4 linked regions of the Homo sapiens genome follow. The protein of the gene in region 4 interacts with the protein of the main gene of each other region in a pairwise test. Each region holds a gene or a part of one and is shown on either strand. Other genes may lie near its edges. The genes, in order: TRAF3IP3, PLOD3, C1QTNF4 and L3MBTL3.

The links.
Region 1: the proteins of L3MBTL3 (region 4) and TRAF3IP3 interact in binary tests that used the Homo sapiens proteins (3 or more experiments, as listed by UniProt).
Region 2: the proteins of L3MBTL3 (region 4) and PLOD3 interact in binary tests that used the Homo sapiens proteins (3 or more experiments, as listed by UniProt).
Region 3: the proteins of L3MBTL3 (region 4) and C1QTNF4 interact in binary tests that used the Homo sapiens proteins (3 or more experiments, as listed by UniProt).

The regions. Positions count from the first base shown.
Region 1 is NC_000001.11:209,773,048-209,780,072, reverse strand, and holds part of TRAF3IP3 (TRAF3-interacting JNK-activating modulator), read right to left. Parts: intron 4,784-7,025; coding exon of another isoform or gene 4,725-4,783; coding exon 4,584-4,724; intron 4,500-4,583; coding exon of another isoform or gene 4,485-4,499; exon of another isoform or gene 4,475-4,484; coding exon 4,337-4,474; coding exon of another isoform or gene 3,949-4,336; intron 2,722-3,948; coding exon 2,586-2,721; intron 1,963-2,585; coding exon 1,900-1,962; intron 866-1,899; exon of another isoform or gene 759-865; coding exon 699-758; coding exon of another isoform or gene 670-698; exon of another isoform or gene 643-669; coding exon of another isoform or gene 620-642; exon of another isoform or gene 1-619. UniProt on the Homo sapiens protein: Adapter protein that plays essential roles in both innate and adaptive immunity. Plays a crucial role in the regulation of thymocyte development.
Region 2 is NC_000007.14:101,207,571-101,214,595, forward strand, and holds part of PLOD3 (multifunctional procollagen lysine hydroxylase and glycosyltransferase LH3 precursor), read right to left. Parts: intron 5,635-7,025; coding exon 5,537-5,634; intron 5,374-5,536; coding exon 5,272-5,373; intron 5,086-5,271; coding exon 4,960-5,085; intron 4,805-4,959; coding exon 4,683-4,804; intron 4,381-4,682; coding exon 4,276-4,380; intron 4,147-4,275; coding exon 4,021-4,146; intron 3,104-4,020; coding exon 2,962-3,103; intron 2,875-2,961; coding exon 2,761-2,874; intron 2,592-2,760; coding exon 2,523-2,591; intron 1,388-2,522; coding exon 1,283-1,387; intron 155-1,282; coding exon 8-154; intron 1-7. UniProt on the Homo sapiens protein: Multifunctional enzyme that catalyzes a series of essential post-translational modifications on Lys residues in procollagen. Plays a redundant role in catalyzing the formation of hydroxylysine residues in -Xaa-Lys-Gly- sequences in collagens.
Region 3 is NC_000011.10:47,591,405-47,598,390, forward strand, and holds the start of C1QTNF4 (complement C1q tumor necrosis factor-related protein 4 precursor), read right to left. Parts: upstream 3,008-6,986; 5' UTR 2,744-3,007; intron 1-2,743. UniProt on the Homo sapiens protein: May be involved in the regulation of the inflammatory network. Its role as pro- or anti-inflammatory seems to be context dependent. Seems to have some role in regulating food intake and energy balance when administered in the brain.
Region 4 is NC_000006.12:130,021,562-130,028,586, reverse strand, and holds part of L3MBTL3 (lethal(3)malignant brain tumor-like protein 3), read right to left. Parts: exon of another isoform or gene 6,453-7,025; intron 6,361-6,452; 5' UTR 6,282-6,360; intron 1-6,281. UniProt on the Homo sapiens protein: Is a negative regulator of Notch target genes expression, required for RBPJ-mediated transcriptional repression. It recruits KDM1A to Notch-responsive elements and promotes KDM1A-mediated H3K4me demethylation.

The sequences.
Region 1 (7,025 bases), on a different chromosome or scaffold from region 4:
TCATATCCTAAAATTTATCTTCATATGGTTAAAGATGGTTTTTTAGCCACCCTGCAGTCTTAGTCTTGGTGAAAAGAGCATGGACTAGGAGTCAGAAGTTTTGGATTGTTGTTATAGCTGTGTTGTTAGTTTGTGTCACCATAGACTTTCATGTTCTTATCCATACTCTGTGAGCATAAAAATTTCTGCCTTATCTATTATATTATGCCCAATGATTGTGAAGAGAAAACAAAAGGTCGTGTGTAGTGGACAGGTGAGGAGCTATTGCCCCTCTGTATACACAGTGAATTCTCAGGAAACATGGACAGTAGACTCTCTAGGGCTAACAGTGAGTTGACTCTGGACTGCTATGTGGTTTGGGGCTGGGGAGTTGGATGTGATTTGGAAAATCAAGTGTGTAAAAATTGACATGAAATCCTGAGTTCAAAATAAATTTATTGAAATGTTCAACACAGACATGTGCTTTCAGAGAGAATAGAAACCCTTTTTCACAGTTTATATACCTCAAGATAGAAGGCTAACTAGTTGAAGTGTCCTCAGAGCCAATGATCAGTCCTTAAAAAGCTCCCACACATCCCGGACTTAACAGACTCCCAGAACTGGCTGGGACTCCAGGAGGTCATGTAGTCCATCCCGCTGCCTCTAGGCAGGTAAGAGAAGAGCAATATCTTAGAATTTGTGGTAATAAATTTGCTGACCTTTCTTTGTTAAGAGTTTCTCCTGTTCTTGAAGCTGTAAGGATTGATTTTGAAGCAAACCTGTTGGAAAACACAAGGAACTTGTCTATGCTAGCATATTTACTACAAAAAGTTTTCTTTTCAGAACTTTGCTTAGAACCTTGGTTATTAAATATGTTCCCATCTGCTGTGTGTTGAATTTTGTCCCCCAGAATATATATGTTGAAGTCCTAACCCTCAGTACCTTAAATAATGACCTTATTTGGAGATAGATTCTTTAAAAGATAATCAAGTTAAAATGGGGTCATTCAGGTGGGCCCCAATCTAATATCACTGGTGTCCTTATAAGAAGGGGAAATATGGACACAGATATGTTCATGGGAAAGACAATGTGAAGAGACACAGAGAGAAGACGGCCATCTACAAAGCCAAGGAAAGAGCCCTGGGATAGATCTTTCCCTAAACGCCCTCAGAAGGAAACAACCCTGCTGACATCTTGGATTTCTAGTCTCCAGAACTGTGAGACAATACATTTCTGTTCTTCAAGGCACCCAGTCTGTGGTACTTTGCTATGAATATAGCATCCTTATATCTCCCCCTACCATGTCTCTATCTTCAAGTCTTTGCTTGAAGATTTTCCCTTTTCCCTGTGGTTGCTTTGCTCTCTTAATAATCATTGCTGCTTTCATGAAGCTTCTCTATCAGGTGTCAGAGGTTAAAGTGGTGGGCAACCAGCAGCTGTATTAATTGAGTCAGGTTCTCCAGCTTTTCAGAAACTGCTTTTCTTCTGAGAAGTCCCTTTTCCTCTTTGGGCCCAATATGTAGTTTTGAAGTGGATTGAGGCACGTATAGTGTAAGCTTATTTTCTAAACCATCTCTAATGACAGGTCTATGTGACACATTCATGTACATAAATTAGAATATATAAAATAAGAACTGCTTTAGGAAACCCAGTATTTAAAAAAAATCTGCAGTTCTAGGGGAAATGTAAGTGGTGTCATTGGCATGGAAGGAGAACAGTAGAAAAAAAAGAACAGAGGCTAACACATAATTTATGGAGAGCTATGTAAATGACCTCACTTTACAAGAAGAGGGTCTGAAAGTGCACAGAGTTAGAGCATATGCCAAAGACTGGGCCCTTAGTCCCTACTCTGGGTGCCTTTTGTGGGCCAGGACCCCAGGAAAACCCTGTGGACTTTCAGAATCTGGAAAGCGAACTTACCCTGCAACTGCTGTACTCTGGTCACCAGGGTGAGTTTCTCTGCCTCTGACCTTTTTAGTTGATCTGAAAATGCAATAATGCAAGCCAAAATAAAGGAACCCAAGACTTAATGAACTCAGTACTTAGGATGGAAATTAGTAATAGATGCTGTCTTGTCATGGTCTTTAACGTGTGTCTATTGGAAGTTGCTCTATCTTCGTGTCCCAGTTCTGAAGAGGTAAACCAGAAGCCAAGTACCTCAGGTTTTTGTGCATCAACAATGTTGGGTTGCATTGAGGCTTGTGTTTACACACTATCTAGTCCTCTCTATCAGCGGACACAGAGGATGTGACTGAGAGACTTTCTCTATGCCTTGTGTTTCAACTGACCTTTCCCTTTCAAATTAGGACTGTGGCCTTGACATATGTGACTGATGTGGGAGCAGCTGTGATCTGGCCCAGAGGGATGGGCTAAAAAAGAGAGCTCAGACAACAAGATACTCTATCTACTACAGTGAAATTAATTTTCAATTTTGGATGATTAAAACAGTCCTGCCTCTCCCTCAAGGTAAAATGAGATTATAAAGCCAATCAACCAATCAAGCAAACAAATAAAAGGCTGAAGCCTTTCTCTTAATTCAGTTTCTTTTTTCTTAGCTCACTTGGCCATGGCTGCCATGCACTCAAGGCCTCCAAGGAGAAGAGTACCTTGTAGGTCCTGGGTATCCAAGCTGCACAGGTCTCTGTCCCCTTGCAGGCATTCAATCTTGGCCTGCAGTTGCTGGTGCTCATTTTCCAAAAATCGCAGGGCCTGGTTCATCTGTAAGTCCCTGCTATCTGCTCCCTGTAAGGAGGAGGAAGGGCCAATATAGAAGGAGGTCAGTGTTGGGGTGGAGGTTGGGGGGCGGGTACCATGGAAGAGGAAAATGTAGAAAAGTCTGGAATTTTAGAGATAGAAGGAATGTTAGGGAGATGAGAAAATAGAGAAGTCTTTCTTTTTTCCTATTTCTTCCCTTTGCTTTGTTCCTCATATTTATAACAGCAGATTAGACTTTTGATATTCACAAGGAACTCGCGTCTTTTATTTATTTATTTTTATTTTTAGAGATGGGGTCTCACTTTGTCACCCAGACTGGAGTGCAGTGGTGCCATCATAGCACATTGCAGCCTCGACCTCTTGGGCTCAAGCAATCCTCCCATCTTAGCCTTCTGAGTAGCTGGGACTACAGGCATTTGCCAGTAGTTTTGAAGTGGACTGAGGCATGTGCAGTGTAAGTTTATTTTCTAAACCATCCCTAGTGACAGGTCTAAGTGACACATTCATGTACATAAATTAGAATATATAAAATAAGAATTGCTTTAGGAAACCCAGTACGTTAAAAAATCTGCCATTCTAGGGGAAATGTAAGTGGTTGTCATTGGTGTGGGAGTCATGTCTTGACACTTTGGTAAATCACCAAATTAAGGAATACAAAGTCATTAGTTTTCTGGATGTTTTCATTTTCTCTTTTTTCTACTTCTGGCAGTATCAGTTTTTTTTTTGGTTAGGGTCTTTTTTTTTCCACAAAGATTTAAAGTTAAAAAACCCCTCACAAAAATCTTCATAGGAGTTGCCTTATAGGTGATGGGAAGAAGAAAACAACAAAGGTTGAGCTGTGGATACCACGCAGAGTGACCAGCTGGGTTCACTCCTTTGATAAGACTCACATACTCTGTCTCTTATCAAGTGGGCTGTTCTGAGCCCTGCTTCAGGAAAATTACAAAGATCAGCTTTTGAGGTGGATCCTCAAAATTCCAAACCAGGTAAATAAATCTATGCAAAATAATAGCTAATATTTACTGAGTGTTTTTGTGTGCCAGGCATTGTGCTAAGTGCTTTACATGGATCATCTTACTTAATACTCAGAACCACCTTATGATGTAGGTACTATTATCCTCATTTTAGAGATGGGGAAACTGAGGCTTAGGACAGATTGAAGATGATGGAACCCTTGAGGATGCCAAGAATCTAATTGTAATTGCTAAATGTAATTGCTTAAAATACACATTGGCAGAAAGTGTTAATACTCACCTGTAAATAAATTAGTGACATTCTTTCTTTGCCAACAGTGGGCAATTCTGAACTGGATGCTTTTTTGGGATGGAGTTTGGAGAGTGGGTTGGGAGATGACATTAGTAGGCTGATGAATATTCCAGCCAGTTCTTTTCATTTGGGTGGTGATGGTGTCATTCCAATGAACGCTTAGTTCATTTGCATGAGCAATGCAGACATCCTTGCTAAACTCAAAATTAGATTTCAGAGCCAAAACAGTGAATTTGGTACAAAGTAGTGGTGACTGAGGAACTGAAAGCCAGATGCTGTCAGCTGCCTTTGGAGTCCCTAATCCAGAACAGCTTCTTTCATCACCATCCCTCCTCCCCATACCCTGTCTTCCCTCCCCACCCCCAGTGCCTGGTACCTGCAGTTTGGACTGAAGCACGTGGAGTTGGCTCTCCAGCTCCCTGTGCTGGGTCCCAAGGGTCCTCCAGTCCTCCTTCAGAGCCTCATACTGGCTCCTCCACTCTTCACACTTCTGCTCTGCCAGGGCCAGGGATCGCTGAGGGAGATCAGAGAGGAGAGGGCTCCAGGGAGTTGTGCAGCTGGCTCCCCTTGTTCCCCAAGCTGCCTGGAGTCCCCAGCCCCATGTCTATGTGGCATCCCCATACCTGTGTGCTCTGTAGTTGCTGCTCTGCATTCATTTTCTCCTCCAGCACTTTCTGCAGTGACTCCTTGGCCTTCTGCTCATAGCTGTTTTTCTGGTCTTCCATCTCCAGTAGTACTTTTTTCATTCCCCAAGGGGAGTATTTCTGTAAATTTGATGCAATTCAACAAATACACATTGAGCTTCTGTGTGCCAAATCCTGAGCTGGGATACAGAAATGAAAAGAAGTTGGTTCTTCCCCCAGGCAGAGATACCAGTAATCTAGTGAGCCATTTCTTTTAGGGTAGAGCTAGCAAGAAGAGTCCCTCAGGCAATGAGAGATGAGTGGAGGGCATAATAAACAGTGCCCTAGGCTTCCTGGGCATTATATCTGAGGCCTTCTGCAAGCTCTTGGAATCCAAGATGTCTAAACAGGACTCATCTTTCTAAACATGTTCTTTTTTCTTGGGGTTCCTATCTCAGTGACCAGAATCATCATCCATCCAGGCTTTTCCAAACCCTAAACCAGGGAGTCAATCTTCATTTTCTCTCTCACTTCCTCCCCCTCTAATCAGTTGGTCATTGAGCCTTGACAATTTCCTTAACAGCTCATATCTGTCTCCTCTCTATCCCTACTGCTGCTTCCTTAGTTCAGGCTCTAGTAGTAGTGTTATGTGGATTAATGCAACAGCCTCCCTTTCTTCAAATCTTGCCTCCCTTCAGTCCCTTTTCAGTTCTGCATTTAGAGGGTTCTTTCTAAAATGCAAATCTGATCTTGCCACTTCCTGTATAAATCTCTCCATGGATTCTCAGCATACTAAGAATCACATCCAAACTCCTTGTCATGGCTCCTCTTACACGCCTAGACTTTCATCCCATGCTACTTCCACCTAAGCTGAGATGTTTGCAGATCCCCCAGCACTCTGTTTTTTGGGGCTCTGCCTTTACCCATGTAGCTTCTTCTGCCTACAGCCAGTTAACTTCTACTAATACTCAAGATTCAGTCCAGTATCATCAGTTCTGATAAATTGACCAACTACCCCCATCCCACAATGTCTTATGGATTAGGTAGCTTTTCTTAGGGTTCATGGTGTTCACATAGTATCCCCTGCATGCCTCTATTATTCTACTCTATTGACTCATCTGTCTTTCATACTGGATTGTAAACTCCTTCAGGGAGGGAGCATACTGCTGCTGCTTTAAAAAAAAATCATTGTAGCTTCTTTACAATGCCTAATGAACTTCATGTTTTAAAATTAATACATTTGCATTATAAAATTCCTCCTGGCTGCAGGATTAAGGAGACACAAGCGCAGCTTTGCAAATTCACTGGGGGTCTTGCCTTCTCCCTTTCTTTCATCTTTATGCCCTGTGATTTCGGAGAAGGCAGGCAGATTTTATTGTCAATTCTGGATTACCTACTGTGTAAGCAGTAGACCAGATGACAACAATTTAGGGATCAATATGAAATCATTTCCATTTAGCTTTGGAATTGTCTGAAATTTTGGATTTAAATTTGAGTGGGTCTTATAGTTTTGGAACTTTCATTAAAAACCAGATCCAGGAATTAACCTGGTTGAGGTCATATGTAGGGGATGTCCCAGTTATTGGACATCCAATGACCATCCATGCTGGGCACTGGTTATGTGTTATTCCCTATTGAAAATGAATAGACTGGCATTCTGGATTATATATTAGTCTCCTGTGAACTTGGTTGGCATTATTTAGTCCTGACAAAGCAAGTTATACTGAAAAAATGAAAGTTGTGGACCAAGAAACTTATAGACTCCATAAACTCTCTTCCCCTGTAAGACGCCATCAATGTGGCCAGGACTGTCTTCTCTCTCTAACTCCAGATGGGAGAATTCTGCCTGTTTCACCCCATTCTCTGATTTGATATCTTCCCACCTGTCAGGTATCCATCACTTCTCAAATGTGAAAGCTGATTTCTTTCTATCTCTTATAAACCAAGATTAGGCCAATCAAGAGATTACTAATGCTGGAAAATGGTGTTACAGAAGAGCCAAGTAAAAGAGCTTTTACATTCTTCCAGGGGTTGCTAGAAAAAACAGAAAAAAGTTACCCATGGAATGAAAATAATTTTGTAAGACTTCATTATAACATCTAACTCATCTGTTCAAAGATTAGGATGCGTAAAGGGCTGTCTGGGTGATGTGAGTCTTTACCAAGGGCCTTCCCCTACAGTGTCAGGTATTCTCAAGGTTCCCCTGGAGCTGACAAACTGGTTAGTGCTGGGATTCCTCCAGGGTGCAAAGAGAAGGATACTGGGAGAAAGGGAGAGGAAGAAGGATGGAGACAGTGATCTAGTGAATTAGAGACTAAAGTGTAAATGGCCAAGCCAGAAATGGGTAAGTAGGAATGGGTGTGTTATTCTCTATCTGGTGGTGTTTCTCGAAAGTAAGATTGAGGTTCAAAAACATTCTTCTCATTTAATTCTAGATTCCTG
Region 2 (7,025 bases), on a different chromosome or scaffold from region 4:
AGCGCACCTTGGTGTGGTAACCGGGAAACAGGCTCTCGGTCATGGGGCCCACATACGTCCGCAGCAGCTGCAGCCACTGGTCCTCGTACCCCACCTGCTTCATGTGGATGTCCACGGTGGGCACATTCTCGTAGCCTCCAGCCAGCCTTGAATCCTGGGGGCGGCGGGCACTGAGCCACCCGCCCCTCCAGCCATGGCGCTCCCCACCCCAGGGCAGTCCAGCCTCCTTCCTCCCGTCCTCCAGCCTTCACACCTGTGTTCCTCTGTGCAGAACAGTCTTCTTTGCTACTTCTCGGCCTGACTCACTGCTCCCGGCCCTTCAAGTCTCAGCTAAGATGTCACCTGTCCTGTGAAGCTCCCTACTCCTCCCAAGTCTGGGTCAAGGCTTCCCCGTGGCTTCTATTGCACCCAGGCTGCTCATCGCAGCCTTAGAAGCTGTGTGGTGGCTGCTGCTCACAGCAGGGCAGAGCTCGACCGGCATGAGGCATTCCTGCAGTGCAGTCTAGGACAGTGGCCCAGGAATGATTTCCTTTTCTCTTTTTTTAGAGACAGAGTCTTGCTCTGTCACCCAGGCTGGAGTACTGCGGCATGATCATAGCTCACTGCAGCCTCTAACTCTGGGGCTCAAGTGATCCTTCTGCCTCAGCCTCCTGAATAGCTGGGACATGCCACCATGCCCGGCTAATTTGTTGGTTTTTCTGAGATGGAGTTTCACTCTTGTTGCCCAGCCTGGAGTTCAATCTTGGCTCACTGCAACCTCTGCCTCCCGGGTTCAAGCAATTCTACCTCAGCTCCCGAGTAGCTGGGACTACAGGCGCCCGCCACCATGCCCGGCTAATTTTGTGTTTTTAGTAGAGATGGGGTTTCTCCATGTTGGTCAGGCTGGTCTCGAACTCCTGACCCCAGGTGATCCACCTGCCTCGGCCTCCCAAAGTGCTGGGATTACAGGCGTGAGCCACCGCACCTGGCCCAAACTCGGCTAATTTTTAAATTTTTTGTAGAGACAGGGTCTCGCTATGTTGCCCAGGCTGGCCTCAAACTCCCCCTGCTCGAGCAATCCTCCCGCCTCAGCCTCCCAAAGTGCTAGGATTACAGGCATGAGCCACTGTGCCCAGCAGTAAATATTTCTTGAATACATGAATGAATGCAGTTGTGACCCCAGGGTCTGCCTCCCCCCTGGGAACCCCTCTTTGCTCCCATTTTCCTGATTCCATTGTTTGTTTACCAGATCCTGCACCTCCTCCTCTGGGAAGGCCTCTGCCCTCCTCGCCCAGGCCCTTACCTCATGCCGGCCGCCTGACCACTGGCCGTAGTGCTCCATCTCTGCCACCAGCTCATCACACATTTGTTCTGACAGCAGTGGGAACCAGTACACGTCCGGGCATGGCTGAGGATGGGGCGAGGGAGAACAGGGCTAGCTGACGCCGCAGAACGGGGAAGGGGACAGGCAGCAGGCAGAATGGGAAGGGGCAGGGAGGAGCAGGGAAGGCTTTGTGAGAGCAGCCGGGGACCCGCCAGGTAGGGGCTGAGGGAGTGGCAAGGCTGAGGACCGGTTTCTGGCACAGGAGAGGTGGCAGAGGGTCCTGGAGCCCCTCGTGCTGGGACAGTGGTTTCCAAACTTCCGTAACAGTGCATACCTCTTTTTTTTTTTTTTGAGATAGGGTATTGCTCTGTCAACCAGGCTGGAGTGCAGTGGCACAATCATAGCTCACTACAGCCTCGACCTTCTGGGCTCAAGCGATCCTCCCGCCTCAGACTCCCAAGTAGCTGGAACTACAGGCACATGCCACCATGCCAAGCTAATTTTTTCTTTTCTTTTTTTTTTGAGACAGGGTCTCGCTGTGTCACCCAAGGTGGAGTGCAGTGGCGTGATCTTGGCTCACTGCAACCTCTGCCTCCCAGGTTCAAGCGATTCTCCCACCTCAGCCTCCCGAGTAGCTGGGACTACAGGTGCACGCCATCACACCTGACTAATTTTTGTGTTTTTTTTTTTTTTTTTTTTGGTAGAGACAGGATTTGCCATGTTGGCCAGGCTGGTCTCGAACTCCTGACCTCAGGTGATCTGCCTGCCTCGGCCTCTCAATGTACTGGGATTACAAGCATGAGCACCACTCCTGGCCTCATTTCTTATTTAATTTTTTTGTTGTTGTTGTAGAGACAGATTCTCGCTATGTTGCCCAGGCTGGTCTTGGACTTCTGGCCTCAACCGATCCACCCACCTTGGCCTCCCAAAGTGCTGGGATTACAGGCATGAGCCACTGAGCCCAGCCCCATTCTTCTTTTAAGATGTGATTTCAAGCATAACACCAGTATACCCAATATACAGGAGAAGAGGCTGTCTGATCAATGCTGGCTTTGGGGGCAAGAGTCCTTTCTGTTCGGCCTCTGCCTTCATCTTGTCTGAACAGAAAACCCTCAGATCTCTGGGGAACTCAGTGTGAAAACTTTGAATCCAGGCGGGGGCCCCCAAGAGGCGATGGCCATGAGGGCAGGGGGTGGGTGGGGAGGCTGCGTGGGCTCACCTGCTCCACGATTCCTTCCCCTTCCAGGGCCCGGCTGTAGTTCTCGTGGATGTACTGCTCCTTCCAGTCCTGTGAGAGGGTGGGGGGCACATCAGATCTGTGCCCCCCTCGCTCCCAGCCCCCAGGGGACCGCCCCCTCCCACTCAGTGTCCTGCGCTGGCAGCAGCCATCACGTTTGGTGTCTTCCTTAGCACAAGGCGGGGAACCTGTGTGCTCTGGGCGTGGGGTCCCCACTCACGACGGGGTTGTCGAAGATCTGCCAGAGGTCGGGGTGCAGGTGCTCCGTGTCGTATCTGGAAGTGGCCAGGAGCCGGCCAAATTCATGCTGATTGCTCAGATGGAGGAAGATGCCCTGTAGTGGGGTGGGGGTGTCCGTGATGCAGGCGATGCCTGGAGTCTGGGGGACTGCCCCCAGGCCAGACCGTGCACCCGCGCTCACCTTGTCTCGAAAGCTCTTACAGAAGGCCATGTCCGGGTCTGTGTCACTGCCCGAGAACACATCCCTCTGGGGCAGCTCCATCCGCAGGGTATCACCCCGGATCACATAGGCCTGGGAGATGTATGGTACATTCCACACACCCCTGGAGGCACCGACACCGCGGTCAGCTGGGAGGACAGCCCCCCAAATTCTGCCCAGCTCATCCCGGGAAGTCCTTCTTCCCTCAGGGTATCCCAGTCCCTGAACATAAGGCCCCTGCATGTCCCTTGTCAAGCACTGCTGGTCCCAACCACCCCACCTCCCAAAATGCGGTCAGTTCCTACCCCAAGCTGTGGCACTTCTTTTTTGTTTCTTGTTTTTGGTTTTTGAGACGGAGTCTTGCTCTGTCACCCAGGCTGGAATGCAGTGGTGTGATCTTGGCTCACTGCAACCTCCACCTCCCAGGTTCAAGCAATTCTCCCACCTTAGCCTCCCAAATAGCTGGGATTAGAGGTGCCAGCCACCATGCCCGGCTGATTTTTGTATTTTTGGTAGAGATGGGGTTTCACCATGTTGGCCAGGCTGGTCTCGAACTCCTGACCTCGAGTAATCCACCTGCCTCTGCCTTCCAAAGTGCTGGGATTACAGGCGTCAGCCACCGCGGCCGGCCCTTGTTTTTTATTTTCTTGAGAAAGGGTCTCCCTCTGTTTCCAGGCTGGAGTGCAGTGGTGGAAACATGGCTCACTGCAGCCTCAACCTCCCAAGTTCAAGTGATTCTCCCACCTCAGCCTCCGTAGTAGCTGGGACCACAGGCACGCACCACCGTGCCCAGCTAATATTTTAAGTTTTTTGTAGAGATAGGCTCTTGCTACGTTGCTCAGGCTGATCTTAAACTCCCAGGCTCAAGCAGTCCTCCTACCTCAGCCTCCCAAAGTGGTGGCATCAAAAGTGTGAGCCACTGCAGCCAGCCTCATGGCACCTCTGACTGGTGACCACTCCAAACCCCTGAGAGTAGGGGGCTTGGGTCTACCTGGGCCCCGGGTCGGAGGAGGCGGGGGGCTGCAGGCTGGCGGGACTCACACTCGCTTCCGCTGCACCAGCTCCACGTAGTCCTCGGAGCGGGCGTAGTACTCATCGGGGCTCAGGGCGCCCCAGAAGTTGGACCACAGCTTGCCGTGGCGGGACAGCATGGGGGCGATCACCTTCCTGCGGACAGGTGGGGGTGAGGGCTGGGCAGACGGGAGCAGGCCTGGGGAGCCCGGTGCCCAGGGCAGGAGTGGGGTTCCCGGGGCCTGTTGGGGTGCCCTCCGGCTGCGGGGAGAGGGGGTAAGCCACCTGTTCTCCTCAATGAGGATACGCAGGGTCTGCAGGTTGGTGAGGACAGCGTCGGCGTCCAGGCTGAAGTAGAACTCACACTCGGGGTCCTGCCGACACAGGTCCCTGGAGGTGAGAGGCGAGCTGAGACGGCGGCAGGTGGGGAGGCGGTGTGGATGGGGTAACTGGCCCATGCCCCCAGGAGAAGAGGAGGGAGGCAGTGTCTATCCTTCCTTCCCCAGGCTCTCTGCTGTCTGGGTGAGCTGGCAAGGGCAGGAGTGACAGCATGGGGGCTGCAAGGATGCGAATGGGGAGGCCCAGGAGGGGCTGGATGGGTGACAGGTGAGGCAAGGGCCAGGCAGCAGGTGGCAGCACCCCTGACCCTACAGCCTCATCCCACCCTCTCCTCCCCGCAAGCACCCGCTCACATGGCCATGTCCCTGGCCTCGCCTGGGCTCAGAGCCTCCTCCGGCCCCACGAGCTTCACAGCTGAGAAGTGGTCCTGGAGCTGCGGCCAGGAGTCAGCGATGTGGGGTTCATGGAAGACCTCCTGGGAGGGGAAGACATAGGGGGATGGGCTCAGAGGGCAGGGAGGCGGCACCTGAGGGATGGGGGTGCAGGAAGGAGATGGGGGTGGGGGCACGAGAGTTCTGATCAGGGCAGGGAAAGGGTCCCTCAGGAGAGGCTCCAACAGGGGAGTCTCACGTTGTTGTGCAGGAAAAGGGTGACCCTGTCGGGGGGATAGTCCAGGAGTAGCAGCCGCTGCAGGAAGCGGGGCAGAAACGGAGTAGGCTGTTCCACAAACACGGCCAGAAACACCCGGGGGGGAGGCTGGAAGATGCAACACGCAGGGACTCAGAGAGAAGCCCGGACTTCCCTGCTGCCCCCACCCAACCTCCACCCTGACAGGTGCAGGGACCCAGGAGCGATGCCCCCACCGCCCCCCAGTCCGCTGTCCTTGTACCTCCTGCTCAGCACGCTGCCCTCTCGTGCCCCTCCCTGGCACCCCCACCTCACCTGCCCCCCCGGGAGTGTCCTCCGGTCCTGGTTGCAGAAGCCACAGCCTCCCTCAGGAGTCCAGCCATTGGGGACGTAGTTTCCCAGGTAGTTGAGCTGCAGCTGTTGGGGACAGACTGAGGCTGAGTGGCTGAGGCCTCCAGGGGTGGAGGTGGGGGTCAGGCACCTCTGATATGGGGGCTGGGAAGGGCCAGCTTCTCAGAAGGGTTGGAGGTGCCTGGGGGTTGGGGCAGGGCGGGGCGGGGGTTGAGACCACTGGTGGCACCTTAGTGGGACCGTTTCCATGGACCACAATGGGGAGCGTGTCGTAGGCCACGTTCCGGATACGCACACGGTTCCGATCAAACTTTAAAACCACTTCATCTGGGGAAGAAAAAGGCCAGGCTTCAGACCCCCTTTCTCTGGGAGCTACCAAGCAACACATTCTTCTAAATATGGGGTCCCAAATTCTCCAGGGAATAAAGGGACACCAGGGCTATCCTGGAGTGTGGCTCGTTGTGGGCAGGAACCTTTGGGTTCTGACCAGGCTGCTGGCCCAGAGAGCTCCACTGCCTACTACCTGCGTGATCACACCGCAGCTGGGCGAGGAAGGGGAGGGTGAGCTGAGCGGGAGGCCAGTAGGAGCCTCAGCATCCCTACCCCTCCTCATATTCTCTCTCTCCTTGTTTTTTTTTTTTTTTATTTTTATTTTTTGAGATGGAGTCTCACTCTGTCACCCAGGCTGGAGTGCAATGGCGTGGTCTCGGCTCACTGCAACCTCTGCCTCCTGAGTTCAAAAGATTCTCTTGCCTCAGCCTTTCAGGTAGCTGAGACTATGGGCACATGCCACTACACCTGGCTAATTTTTGTATTTGTATTTTTTGTTTTTTATGCTGAGATGGAGTCTCACTCCCAACACGCAGGCTGGAGTGCAGTGGCACGATCTTGGCTCATTGCAACTTCCACCTCCAGGGTTCAAGCGATTCTCCTTCCTCAGCCTCCCGGGTAGCCAGGATTACAGGCGCGCACCACCATGCCCGGCTAATTTTTGTGTTTTTAGTAGAGACAGGGTTTCACCATGTCGACCAGGCTGGCCTTGAACTCCTGACCTCAGGTGATCCACCTGCCTCGGCCTCCCAAAGTGCTAGGATTACAAGCATGAGCCACCACACCCAGCCTAATTTTTGTATATTTAGTAGAGACTGGGTTTCACTATGTCAGCCAGGCTGGTCTCAAACTTCTGACTTCATGATCTGCCCGCCTCAGCCTTCCAAAGTGCTGGGATTACAGATGTGAGCTGTCGCACCTGGCCTTTTTTTTTTTTGAGAAGGAATCTCACTCTGTCACCCAGGCAGGAGTGCAGTGGCGCAATCTCGGCTCACTGCAAGCTCTGCCTCCCGGGTTCCAGTGATTCTCCTGCCTCAGCCTTCTGAATAGCTGGGATTACAGGCACCCGCCACCACGCCCAGCTCATTTTTGTACTTTTTTTTAGTAGAGACGGGTTTTCGCCATGTTGGCCAGGCTGGTCTCAAACTCCTGACCTCAAGTGATCCTCCTGCCTGGGCCTCCCAAAATGTTGGGATTACAGGCGTGAGGCACCGTGCCTGGCCTCTCTCTCTCCCCGTTCTCCCCATCCCCTGAGGCAAGTCACCAACCCCTCCACAAGCTGTTTTCCTCATCTGTACAAGAAGGATAACCAGGGACCTTCCCTTTGTTAAATGGAATCACAGAAGTAGACCGGGCACAGTGGCTCATGCCTGTAATCCCAGCACTTT
Region 3 (6,986 bases), on a different chromosome or scaffold from region 4:
TTTGAGACGGAGTCTGGCTGTGTCGCCAGGCTGGAGTGCAGTGGCTTGATCTCGGCTCACTGCAGCCTCCACCTCCCAGGTTCAAGCGATTCTCCCGCCTCAGCCTCCCAAGTAGCTGGGACTACAGGCTTGCACCCAGCACACCCAGCTAATTTTTGTATTTTTAGTAGAGACAGGGTTTCACCATGTTGGCCAGGATGGTCTTGATCTCTTGACCTTGTGATCCGCCTGCCTCGGCCTCCCAAAGTGCTGGGATTACAGGCGTGAGCCACCGCGCCCGGCCGAAACCCCTTTCTTAAGTGAAAGCTTGAACACAGACTAGCAGAAACACTCTGGTTAAAGAGGCCTACAGCCCTGTCTGCTGGGCTTGCCCCTACACCTCCCATTTGACACTCAGGGGCCCTGGTAACCCGGGGGATTCAGGGGAGTCTCTGAGTTCCCCTCAGCTCCAGTTGGCTGCATTTTCCTGTGGTTATTTTATGGTCCTTGGTCTGCCACTCACGCAGGCACTGGCTCTCTGTGTCAACGCTCTGCATGACCGTTACTGTTTAAGCCCCATCTGAGCAGGAAAGGAAATCGCTGCTCCCTGACCCCTTTCCTGGCCTCACCAGGGGCCCTTCCTGCACAGAGGAGGCGAGAACAGTTGGGCTTTGAGGTAGCTTCCTCCCCCTTGAAATCAGAGTAAAAGAGAAGGTGACTCCTTTCTCTTTGCTTGGAGGCTGGTTACTCAGAAGAAGGAGTGGCGAGCCAGGGGCTACTGGGGATGGACAGGGACAGCAACAATTCCAGCAGGGCTTTGGCAAGGCTGTGAAGTCAGCAGCTTTGTTCCTTGGGAGTGATGGATTGGAGAGGACAGATAGCCAGATCTGGGTTCAGGTCCTGGCTCTACCACTCACACTGTGAAACCTTGGGCAGGTTCCCTAACTTCTCTGGGCATGGCTTCCTCCATGTAAATGGGGAAGAGACCTCACACACAGGCTTGCTGTGGGGGTGTGCTGAGATAGGTGTGAACATGGTTTGTCAACGGCAGTGCTGAGGTGTGCAGATGCTTCTGTCGGTTGCCCTGACAAAAGTGATCTGGTCCAGTTCTTGACGTAAGGGTTTAGGGACTCAGTCACTCCTACCCCTGAGAGCTTGGTGAAGGCACTGCTTAACTCAAAGGAGTCACTCTCTGATGTAGGGATTCCATCCTGCTTCCTAGTAGGGCACGTGCTTTGGGGCTTGAATACCCAAAAGCCCTGATGTGGAAACAAAACAGGAAAGAAATGAGCTGGAGACAGCCTGGGATGTGGGCTGCTTTAGAAAATGCCCTGTATGTGTAGCTCTGTGTCTCTTAGAGACAGCAGGGACCTGCTGAGAAGGGTTGTCAGGTGTAGATGTGCAGAACGTCCCAGCTAGAATCTAGCTCACACTCCACATGTTAGAGCAGCACCTGGCGTAAAGTATGCCACCTTCTCATTCTCATACTAAAGACCCCAAGTTGCTAGCCAACTGAATGCTGTCTCCTTCCAGAGGAGGTGCTTTTTGTAATTCTCACAAAGGTGTCCTATGGATTAGTTAGGTGTCCCTTGGTTAGGACAGGGAGGAGGGAAGGGGCCATCCACAGTGGTGAAGATGGCACCTCACAAGTGTCCAGTGCATTCCCTTTTACAAAGTTCTTTTAGACACATGGTCTTGGCAAACCTACAAGACAGGTGGGCCGTCTCCCATTTTATAGATGAGAAAGCTGAGGCCCAACAAGGGAAAGCATTTTGGCCCAAGGTCACCCATGGAGCACTGAGGTTTTTTGACTCAAATTCCGTATGCCTTCCTGTCACTCTTCCCTCCTAGACACAGGTATGTCCAGCCAATTTGTTCTGTGCCTCAGTTTACCTTTTTGCAAAACTAGGAGAGGAGATCAGAGGAATGAGTCTTGGGATCCAGGGTGAGGAAGACAGAAAGCAAAACCAAACAAAAGCAAGCAAACACATTCTCTAGTGTTTTGTCTTCTGGGAACACGGAAAACAGCTCAGCTTTTCCATACCGCTGCTTTCCTAGTGGGTCCTGCCCCAGAAGCAGCTGCCCAGCAACCTCCTGACCAAGGCTGGTGCACCCCACCAGTGCCAAGGGTCTTCCTGTGCACCCAGTACCCAGCCTCCGTTTCACCCACACTGCCCAATTCCCAGATCCCTGGATCCTCGTCCTTCCCTGAACCCCCTTCCCTGAGCAGGTCAGAGGTGTGGGAGGGTGTGTCAGGTGGGTGTCATAGCTCCAGGGAAGGAAATGGCTGTTCCTGGCTCTGTCCAGGTGGGGTTCAAAATAGTCATCTTCAAAGAGAAAAACTGGGACACAGAGCTGGAGAGACCCAGAGCCCCGGAGCCAAGGCGGGAGGTGCAGCGATGTCAGGCTGAGGGGATCGCAGAGTTCCCCCTTGCCCTGCCACTCACCAGTTAACCCTTCCCTCAAGCCCTGCCAGAGCCCCCTCCCCAACCTACCTTGAAAGCCCCTCATCCTTCCAAGAAGTCCCACTTTCACAGAAGCCAATTAATCCTTATTTTTAAAAAACAAAAACCAATCCCTCTCCCCCGAGACCTTCCCTCCATCCATCCATCCCTTTGGAATGAAAGCCCTTGTGCCTGTTTCACGAAAAGGCTCCCAGGTCCTCCTTTCAAGGAAAAAGGACCCAATTTCCCCGCGCCTCCCCAGCCCTCGCTTCCAGTAAAGGGGGAACCTCGGCTCCCTGCCTCCCCTCAGCTGCCCTCACCTGGCTGGGGGCGGCGGTCGAGTCGGGTTCGGTCTGAGCCCGCGATCTGGCTCCGGGCTGCGGGCTGCGGGCTGCAGGCTGCAGGCTGCGGGTGCCGGGCTGCGCGCTGACCGCCCGCGCTGCGGCAGGGGCGGCGGGGGCTCCGGCTGCTTTTCCCGGCTCTGAGGCGGCAGCGGACAGGGTGCTGGGGCCAGGGGCCGGGCGTGGGGAGGCGTGAGGGAAAGGGAAGGTCAGCTAGAGAGGGAGCCGAGCGAGAGCGAAGAGGCGGGGGAGAGACGGGAGGGGGAGAGGAGGGGAGTAGGGGAGAGGGAGGGGCGAGCTGCGGGGCCTAGGGGCTCCGCACGGAGTCTGCGCCGAGCACTGGACCCTTCCTCATCTGTGACCTCCTTAGAGCTTCGTCCTCTGGGTCTAGAGAGCAGGCATCATTAATCTGAGCAGTTGGGGAAACTGAGGCCAGAGGCAGCAGCTAACGCGGGGTGGCCCAGAGCGCTCTACAGTCCAGCTTCCTTCCTAGTGTGGGGAGAGAGGGCTAGAGCTGGACTCAGAGGCTGGACTAGCCTTTGGGCTGCAAGGACAGTGGAAGGTGAGATTTTGGCTGGGACAGATGTCCAAGCTAAGTGGCCTTGGGGGAGAGGTCTGAAGGAAGAGAAGGATAAATGGGTCAATGTTGCCAGTAAAGGAAGAGCTGAAAATAACCTAGTTTTTCCTCCTCACCTCCAAATTGGAAAATGCCCACGGTCGGTTAGGAAAGAGGGAGAAGGGAGTCTGCAGGCATCAGAGGGGCAGCCTGCGTTCCCCGGGGTGAGGGGCAGTAAGGAGGAGAGTCCTTGGGGCAGAATGGAATTTTCTGCTGGGAAGGTTGCTCCTGCAAGAAGGGACAGGATTGAGAGGGCAATAGGTGGGGAAGAAAGGCCTCTGGAGAGGGAAACTGATGCCCTGCCTCGCTGGGGCCAGGCTAGCAAGAGTCCAGCAGGGCACCCGGGCTGGGAACAGCGGTCTTCCCATGGTAATACTCACCAGAGGCACTAGTGCTGGCCTCTACTCTGGGCTTCGAGCCCGTGGGATGGGGGCTCAGACTCCCTTTCTCTAGGCTGCTGTTCTCTCCCCTGACGGCTGTAGAGGTGACGACACTGCCTGGCACTCAGTAGATGCTGACTGAGTGGATGACTTTTGAAGAGCTCTACTTTCAGCAGCCAAGAGCTGGTGCCCTCTGCCTGGCCCTGGTTGACTCCAGAGCCATGGGCTCTAATTCTGCCTCTGCTGCAGGTCTGCTCTGTGGTCCCTGAGAGGCCTGGACCCCTGCAGAACCCCCGTCCTCTGGAGCTTTCCTTTTGGAGCTCTCAAAGTTTACCCCACCCCAGTTAATCTATTTGTCTCTAGGAAGATGTTGGTAGAGGTGATTGGCTCTGCTTCAAGGGTGTTAGGTGAATGATGGAATGAATTAACGAATATGTGCCAGAATAGAAAGGAATGAATGGAGGTGTTTTGGGCTGGATAATGAGGGTATTTGGTGACAGAGGGTGAAGCACCTGTCTAGCCCTTGTCAGATCACAACTGTCTCTTTCACCAACTTGAAAAGCTTGGGCCACAGGACTGTGGGGAGGACAAGAAGCAGGGTAAGGGTGGGATGAGCCACACAGGGATGTCGAAGGAGAGCTGGGGGATGCCAAAAGCCAACCTATGGCAATCTATGGCCCTTCTTAGGGCCATGGGCCCCTTCTGGATGAGAAGAGTGGAGCTGCTCTCCTGAGGGTGATTCCAATGGTGGGAGGGGAGGGGAGGGGAGAAGGTATATTATAGGATAATATAATCTCAGTTGAGGTTTGGTTCAGGCTGGGATTTGACACTCCCTGGATCCACAAGAGTTCTCACCAGAGAAGTGAGGGTTGAGGTAGAGATGGGTGGCTGGGGCAGATGACATCAGGATTTGCATCAGGGGACTGGGATAGGGAGGAAGCCACTGGGAAAGGGATATAGAGAAAGATGATGCCATGAGCTGGTGGGTGTAAGGCAGATGGGTGGGCTCCAGAATGGGAGTTAAGAAGAGGTGGCAGCAGGATCCAGAGAAAAGCCCTAGGCTGGTTATAGTCCCTGCTCCCTCCTCTCTTGTTTTGCAGCCACAATTTTATTTATTTTTGAGAGAGGGTCTTGCTGTGTCACCTGGGCTGGAGTGCAATGGTATGATCTTGGCTCACTGCAGCTTTGACCTTGCGGGCTCAAGTGATTCTCCCACCTCAGCCTCCCAGGTAGCTGGGACTACAGGTGCAGGTCACCATGCCTGGCTAATTTTTTTTAAAATTTTTTGTAGAGACGAGGTCTCACTCTGTTGCCCAGGCTGGTCTTAAACAACAATTATTTTATTTATTTTTTAATTGAGACGGGTATGGCTGGGCATGGTGGCTTACGCCTATGATATTAGCACTTTGGGAGGCCAAGGTGGGAAGATCGCTTGAGCTCAGAAGTTTGAGACCACTCTGGGCAACAGAGTGAGACCCCATCTCTCTCTCTCTTTTTTTTTTTTTTTTCTGAGACAGACTCTCGCTCTGTTGCCCAGGCTGGAGTGCAATGCTGCGATCTTGGCTCACTGCAACCTCCGCCTCCCGGGTTCAAGCGATTCTCCTGCCTCAGCCTCCTGAGTACCTGGGATTACAGGAGCGCGCCACCATGTCCGACTAATATTTTGTATTTTTAGTAGAGACGGGGTTTCACCATGTTGGTCAGGCTGGTCTTGGAACTCCTGACCTCGTGATCCGCCCGCCTTGGCCTCTCAAAGTGCTGGGATTACAGGCGTGAGCCACCGCGCCCAGCTGTCCCCATCACTTAAAAAAAAAGTTAAAAAAATTAACATTAAAATATATATAAATTGAGACGGGTTCTTTTTTCTTTTCTTGAGATGGAGTTTTGCTCTTGTTGCCCAGGCTGGCGTGCAATGGAGCAATCTTGGCTCACCGCAACCTCCCGCTCCCAGGTTCAAGTGATTCTCCTGCCTCAGCCTCCTGAGTAGCTGGGATTACAGGTATGCACCACCACCCTGGCTAATTTTGTATTCTTAGTAGAGATGGAGTTTCTGCATGTTGGTCAGGCTGTTCTCAAACTCCTGACCTCAGGTGATCCGCCCGCCTCAGCCTCCCAAAATGCTGGGATTTCAGGAGTGAGCCACTGCGCCTGGCTGAGATAGGTTCTTACTCTGTCACCCAGGCTGGAGTGCAGTGGCACGATCTTGGCTCATTGCAGCCTGGGCTTAAGTGATCCTCCCCCGTCAGCCTGCCACCACGTGGCAGCTAATAAACAACAATAATTTTTATTTATTTTTATTTTTTGAAATGGAGTTTCACTCTTGTCACCCAAGCTGGAATGCAATGGTGCGATCTCGGCTCACTGCAACCTCCGCCTCCTGGGTTCAAGTGATTCTCCTGCCTCAGCCTCCTGAGTAGCTGGGATTACAGGCGTATGCCACCACACCAGGCTAATTTTTGTATTTTTAGTAGAGATGGCGTTGGCCAGGCTGGTCTTGAACTCCTGACCTCAAGTAATCCACCTGCCTCGGCCTCCCAAAATGCTGGGATTACAGGCGTGAGCCACGGTGCCCAGCCAACAACAATAATTTTAATAGCAGGTTCCTTTCACTGAGTGTAGTAGATGCTGTCAGTGGCCCACCCACACCTCCAGGCCTACCAGGAGGGCACCCACAGACAGTTCCTGACCAGGCGCCTACTTCCTGTGTCCCTCCTGAGGGCATTTTCAGCTATGGGAGTTAGTGTGGGGCAGGCCCAAAGGGCTGTAGAGTTAATACCCCCAGAGCAACCATCAGCCAATGGTCCAGAGTTAGGGGTAAATACCCCAGCTTTCTGGTCCCTCGATGGGAGCATTCCAATTCCCAATTCCAGGTCATGTTTCAGACTCAGAGAGACTCCAGCAGAGTTAAGTTCTCCATGGTGAAAACCCACTGGTATCTGTGCGCTTTTTTTTTTTTTTTTGAGACGGAGTCTCGCTCAGTCGCCCAGGCTGGAGTGCGGTGGCGCGATCTTGGCTCACCGCAAGCTCCGCCTCCCGGGTTCACGCCATTCTGCTGCCTCAGCCTCCTGAGTAGCTGGGACTACAGGCGCCCGCCACCACGCCCGGCTAATTTTTTTTTTTGTATTTTTAGTAGAGATGGGGTTTCACTGTGTTAGCCAGGATGGTCTCGATCTCCTGACCTCGTGATCCACCCATCTTGGCCCCCCAAAGTGCTGGGATTACAGGT
Region 4 (7,025 bases):
TGTGAAATCTGTCCTAAGGACCTAAGTTCATAGATTTTAGGCAGGAAAAACTCTAGATCATTATTTCAATGTGAGAACTGAAATCTTAGCAGCATCAAGAACAAATCCTTGAGAAGTTGGGTCTTCTGTTCTCATCCATCCCTGCAGAGGAGACACCTGAGTGTGAACTAATCCATGCTGCCTTTAAACATGAAATCAGTCATTACAGCGGTTCCATCTTATTGATATTTTCTCAAAAACACTGTCCCTTTATCAGCTAGTCATATTTTAATGTGAATGATCCTATTTATAATGTTGCAATGGTCTCTCTGATTTGCTACCTTGTCTGCCATGGAGATCATGTGCAAAGAAAGGGTAGTCACCAAAGGTAACCTTTACAAAATCTCAACTTCCTGCCCTTCTGTGTTACTGTAAGAAGGATGAATTATTTGAGATTCTGTGGCCTAACCTACTTACTTCCTCTAAAGAAGGAACAGAAAATGAAAAATGCCTTTCAAGAAAAAAAAAAAAAAAGGTACACAGAAAGTGAAATCACAAACTGACATTAATGGGCCTATGGCATATTTAATAGACTCTCATTAAATGCTTTTATTTTAAATTCATGTTCAACGTGCAGACTATACCTCAATTTGAGTCAGACATATTTTTTAAAGTGCTAGCATATCATCAACATACTATACTAGAAGGGTAATAATAGAAATTTTACACCCATTAGAGGGATTCAAGGGCCATAAAAAGAACAAGAACCTGACACAGATATTTCTATGCATATGCTAAATATGCATGAACTAAAATTTTAAAAGAAAAACTAAAAGTACTCTCTTGTTCTTTTTTATTTTACTTCATAATTTTTAATGCTAAAAGTAGTATCTTTTTTCTTATTTTGCTTCATATTTTTATAGAACATAAAGCTAAGATTTACACTTGATTTCTCTTTTGCATGTAATGAATTAGATTTGGCTAGATTTTTCTTTCACAGAAGTCTACAGGCTTATCTTGATAACCATTTGTAGCCAACCTCCTTATCAATAGACTGAACAGCTAAGCCTCAAGTCCACCCAATTAGACCACAAACCAATACGGTGAATTACTAAGATCATTTAACAACCAGACCAGATTGACCACCTAGGAATTTCAATTCACTATTCAGGGTTCAACAGTGTAATGGATGGAGAAAAATAATCAACTGATTTTGGTACCTAAGCAATCATACCCAAAATGTTCTAGTAACTAAATTAGCTTAATTCCACAAAATTTATGTAATATAAAGCTATGGTCCAGCCTTTAAAAGGTCTGGTACATAGTATACGCTCAAAAAATGTTTTAAATAGAACTTCAACAAAGGAGAAACAGCCCATTACCTTGTAATCAATGCCTACAATGGCATCCTTCTAAGTCAAACTGAAGAACTGCCTGATCCACCGTAACTCATATAACAGAGAGATATAATTCCCATTGCAATACAAAACCACCCGATGAGTCAAAATAGACTCTTCACCTCATTTTGCAAACATGGGACATACTCTTTTGGTTACAGTGTATAACACCAGTAATTATAGCACTCTTGCTCAGGATCTTAGTCATATTCCCTGTTTTCATCTTTTACTTTGATTCTAGGACACATTTCTACCACACCACCCCTCCATTTTCTCCCCACCATTGTCTCTCTTAATTTTCTTCTTTCCTTTTACAATCCTGGCTTTAGAGTAAATTTCATAACCTACTGAGCCTGCCTTGGTAGATGCAGGTCCCATTCTTTCATTGATTGATGCTTTATATATATATTTTTCATAACTAGTCCTACTACCTTATTGGGTCTCTTCCTATAGAGAACAAATGAAATCTTTATATAAGTAAGCCCAGTGATTCCCAAGCCTATTCTGAGTAATGTTTTATCAACAGTTTGTGATCATTTCAAGGCCATGGGCTAGACCAAGGTGTTCTTTTCAGAATAATTCAATAATTGGTCTTTTCTCAATTCTTGGTTTTAAAAAGAAAAAAAAAAGAAGAAAGTAAAGCCAGTTTTTCTTCCCATCTATTTTTCTTATACCTGTTCATTATTGCTCATCTTAGTAAACCAATGTAAAAGAGCACATACCTTAATCTGGAAATGTGTTGTTTTTAAAATATTCTATGTGTTACTATTTTGAAAATCAAAAACCTAAAGACACATCAATCATATGCCAGTATCATTTTCCCTGATTCCACCCCTTTCAAACTGCATGATATGAACAAGTTACTAAGTAACTCTGAGCACCAGTTTGCTCTAAAAGACAAAAAATAATACCCAGTGCTCAAGGTTAGTGAAAGTATGAGAGGTAATAGTCAGTGCCTAGAACAGTACCTGGGCATACAGAAAGCACTCAAAGTATTTTTTGGATGAATAAATAAATATAAAGCATCTAGCTTAATGCTTGATCTTCAGAAGGCACTCGATATACAATTGCACTTAACATTGTATATCAACACTTCATAGGGTTTTTAAAAGAGCAACCCCATCTGCCGGGTCCTATCACAGGAACACATTTACCACCACATCCAGAGATGCCATCACAGTGTCTACAGCATTTATCTACCATTCACCCACACTTAACCATGGCTTTGTTTTGTTAATTGCCATCGTATGTGTATGGGTTATCTCCCCAACTAGATTAGGAATATACTGAGCCCAAGGATTGATGCTCGATGTCTTTGTAGCCCCAACACATACATTCATTCAACCCTGCTGTAATTGTTGATTTTGTGAAGCAGTTCACAACAGTAATTTAGACAAAATAGAGGTTCAATAAGTATCTGTTGGTGGAACACAAAACAATGATTTACAGTATATATGGGAGAAAGAATAATAATGCAGAAGGCATTTTACTGTTACATATAATATACATATCATTCTTATAATCACCATCCAACTAATCAATTCCAAGTCTACTCAGAAAGAAACTACAGTTTATGAGGAAAGTTCCCTCATCCAAGATCACCCAACTTAACTTTACTCAAGTTCCTCTCAAAGATCCTTGTTCATTCCTCCAAACTATCTTGTCTCCCAAATGGGAATTTTCTAAAGGTCTTTCCCAATTTTACTTCATAAATCAAGCTTAGTTATATATCAAGGATACCCTTTCTTGGTGCTTCTTTTCATCCACCCACTGCATAGCTGCCACAGTCAATACAAATCCGTTCATCATTTCCCACTATTGACTTACATCCACAACCACCAATGAAATAATTTAATACAGTAAAGAGATAATCTGAGAATATTCCTGTTAGATAATGAAGCCCTTTAGAAAATATATCTTCCATGGATCCGCTGAACTTCAAGATGTCACATATAAATGTGCACCCATATGAACATATAAATAGTTCTCTCTAAAGACACTATCTTTACCTATACTATAAGCATTCCCAAATCCTTGTGAGGAACAAATCCCTCAATAGTGGCAAGTGGTAACAGTGGAAGATAGTGTAGATCTTCACCAGAAAGTTACCTTGTGAACACACTGGTCAAAGAAAGAATCGCCTCAATCCATCTTGCTAGACTCTTGCTAGACATTCCTTGACTGTGGGTGAAGGGCTTCTTACTCATTTCTGAAGGCGAAGCACTAAAAAAGGAATGCATTATATTGTGCCATGTGTATTGGATGATATGCCATGGTCCTGCATCAGTTAGCCCAGAAATCCATGTTTCCTGGTTCAACAGCTCCAAAGAGTGCTAGAGCCCTCATCCTTTCCTAATGGTACCATGTGCAACTGTTATACTATTATTAGAAGAGCTCATTATGTCTAGTCCCAGAGTAAGGATCTCTAGAACTCCTCAAGAGCAAGGATCTCGTCTTTTAAGTGTTCAACACCATAAGAGCTCAGAAAAAAACTGGTTAAGTAACTAGTAGAAACAATACCGCAGGGATCACTCAAGTTATCCATCCTTGGGATGCCAACGGTACATCCCACCCACCACATAAAGTAAGTTCTCTCATAAATTCCCCATCCTAACTGCACTACTATAAACAGCATTGGCTGAAATATGGAATTCTTAAAAATAAACTACCAACCCAGTCAAAATTCTTTAAGAATCAACTCTCAATTACTCAGGGACTAATTAAACAGGACATATACTTCTTTTTTCCACTCCTATTGGGTTTTTGGATTCTTAGAACATTGATTGGATAATCTCCAAAGAGTGGAGATGAAGTAAAACTAAAACCTGTCAGGGTTTATTTTGTCAGGTTCAGTAGCATCAAATCAAAAATAATAATAGATAGTACTTACAATTTTTTTAATCTAGATTTTACATAGTTGGCTATAATTAGATTGCAGCCAAAGAGGTCTAGAAAACAAGGAGGAAAAGCCCTACTTGGACATTTCCTAAATTCAGTCATTCGGAGGACTCATGTTCTGGCCCCTATAGTTAGTTTAAATCATTACTACTCCAGTTACCTATTTTCTCATCCTCATCTCCCAGCAGACTCATGCAACTAAAATATTAATTACAGTACATTAATTCCCCTCACACCAACCCTTCTACTTTCATCACCCTACCATTTTCACAATTAGGCATCATTTTAAAGTATTTCTTTCATTTACTCCTTCTACTTATTAAATGACTAGTTTGGGATAAATAAATTTCCGGTTTTGTATTCCGCACCATGTTAGAGCATGGTCTCTTCCCTCAAAGAGCCAATAGTATACAAGGGAAACTACTTTTTTCTCAAGACAAGATATACTCCTAGAAATATTCCGAGAAGTCCATACAATACACACATCAGAAACCAATCTAAAAGTTTTAGCCAAGTGTTAAATCACTATATTCTGACTTAGACAATCTACCTCCAGCCCTTCATAAAGCTGGACGAAGGTAAAATGATATGACCACTATACATCTGAATAACTCTTTATGGTTCTCAAAATCTGATTTTATTTGATTCTTTTAACAAAAGATGCAAGGCAAGTATTGCTGTTCCCGCTCTGTAGATGAGGAAATGGAGGCTGAAGGAGGTAGAGTGACATATACAAGGTGATATATCTAGTTATTACATTTAGTCTTCTGATTCCTATTCTAGCATTCTATCCACAGACACAGTGACTCCGCAGACAAAGAAAAATAAGCAGTGTCTTCAACTCAGCACATTTAAACATGAAATTCACCATCTTAGGAAACTGATTTTACTCTTCTTGAACCCTAGTTGTCTGCAGGACCTTCCTATAGCTGTTCTTGCCCCATTGTCTCTGCTGCATATCCACATGGACCAGATCTACTTATTTTGCTAATTATACAATTCAAAATGATCCACAAGCAGCAAATGACAATAAACTCCTGTTAATCATTTTTATATCAATAATTAGTCATTTTGATTTCTAGATTACACCTGGCCCAATGAAGGTTGTTAGTTCTGCTCTAAAAAGGTAGGCTAATTTTGGTTTTCTTTTGTTTTTGCCAAACAAGATTTAGCGACCCCTTTATTACTCAAGACAGAGAGGGCAGGAAAACAGGCAGAAAAGGAGAGGGGAAGATTAAAGGAAGAAAAAAAAAGGTATAAACAGTAGAAAGCACTGGAGTAGCAAAAATGTACTGAAATGTTCTACCTTCAGAGATGGCTGTCCCCTCTGCCTGAGAATGACCTTTGCCCTAAAAGAAGGACCTGGAGTATTGGAAAGAAGCCAACACCCTCCAAAATTACTAAAGAGATCTTAGTAGACAACAGCTGTATTCCCTGTGGAAGTATGTTCAAAAGTTGACAAGTCTAAGCTAACACACTGAAACTCACTCATAACCCTGCAACATGGCACTTGGCACAAGTCAGCCCATCTTGGATTTAAGCCATAGAAGTTATGTGACAAATACCCCCAAAGCACCCAATGTAAATTTCATTCACAAAATTTTACCACTGGCCCCCCAAGACATTTAGAGTTCCAGAATCTTCCATATCACTGTATAACAATGTAACACTTATATTAATTTACAATCATTTTATTCCAGTTTTTCCACTTTTTCAACTCCAAAGAATAAAACATTTACTTTCAGTAGAAAACAGGTGCTAAAATGCTAATTAAGAATCTAGTAAGTAAGGCAATACAAAGATTATCCAGGACAATCTCCTAACTTCCTAATGTTTCATCCAAACTACAATTACATTTAGTGTCAATACATTCATGCATTCAAAGCAGCCCCACAAAATGATGTTTTTCTGCCAACCCAGTCTCATACTCTCCTTCCTGATCTCCAAATGCAGCTTTTTAACATTTGCAGGTATGTCAAGCAATTTATTTCAACAAGTGGGTCTTACCTTTCGGCGGTGATGAAACACAGAACTCTCTGGCGATCTTCACAATTGCTGTCCACTCTCAAGATTTCTCCTAAGGGTTCTAGCATTGGTTTAAAGAGAGGGAAGGTAAAATCAAAACACTGTCATCAAAAAGAAACCTTCAAATCCACCATCCCCAGTTAAGAAGCTTACATTCTGAATCACTTAGGCATAATTTTACACCATGCCACTCGGTAAATTAAAATAAAATAAGCTGGTTCTAGATGAGTTGAAATGGATTTTAATCATTCGTATCATTCCCATGTCCTAAATTCACCCAATAACGTCTCTCCTGTTGTATATGACAGGCAGGTGAAAGTTACAAGGATCATTTGAGTCAACTTTAATTTCCCTCACTGCTTTTATCTTTAAAATTAAAGATATTTTACAGAAAACACACTGGAAAAAGAATAGATATTACATAAAATTTTTGCCCATGTATTTAAGGACTTTAAATCACAAATTATACAAGTATTCAGAAATAATTTCGTACTCAGTGAAACAAAATTACAGTCTTAGAACCAAAAGGGACTACTTACTCGGACTATACATAACTATACAGCTAAGAAACTATATAAAATTGCCTTACACTTATCAGACAGTAAAATGAACAGCTCATATAAAAGACAAATCTCAACTAAAGGTCTTTTCCATTTCTTCAAAGTTTTAAACACATTTCAACTTAGCAGTTTTCTTAACATTCAAAATAAAGTCATCAGCTGAGAC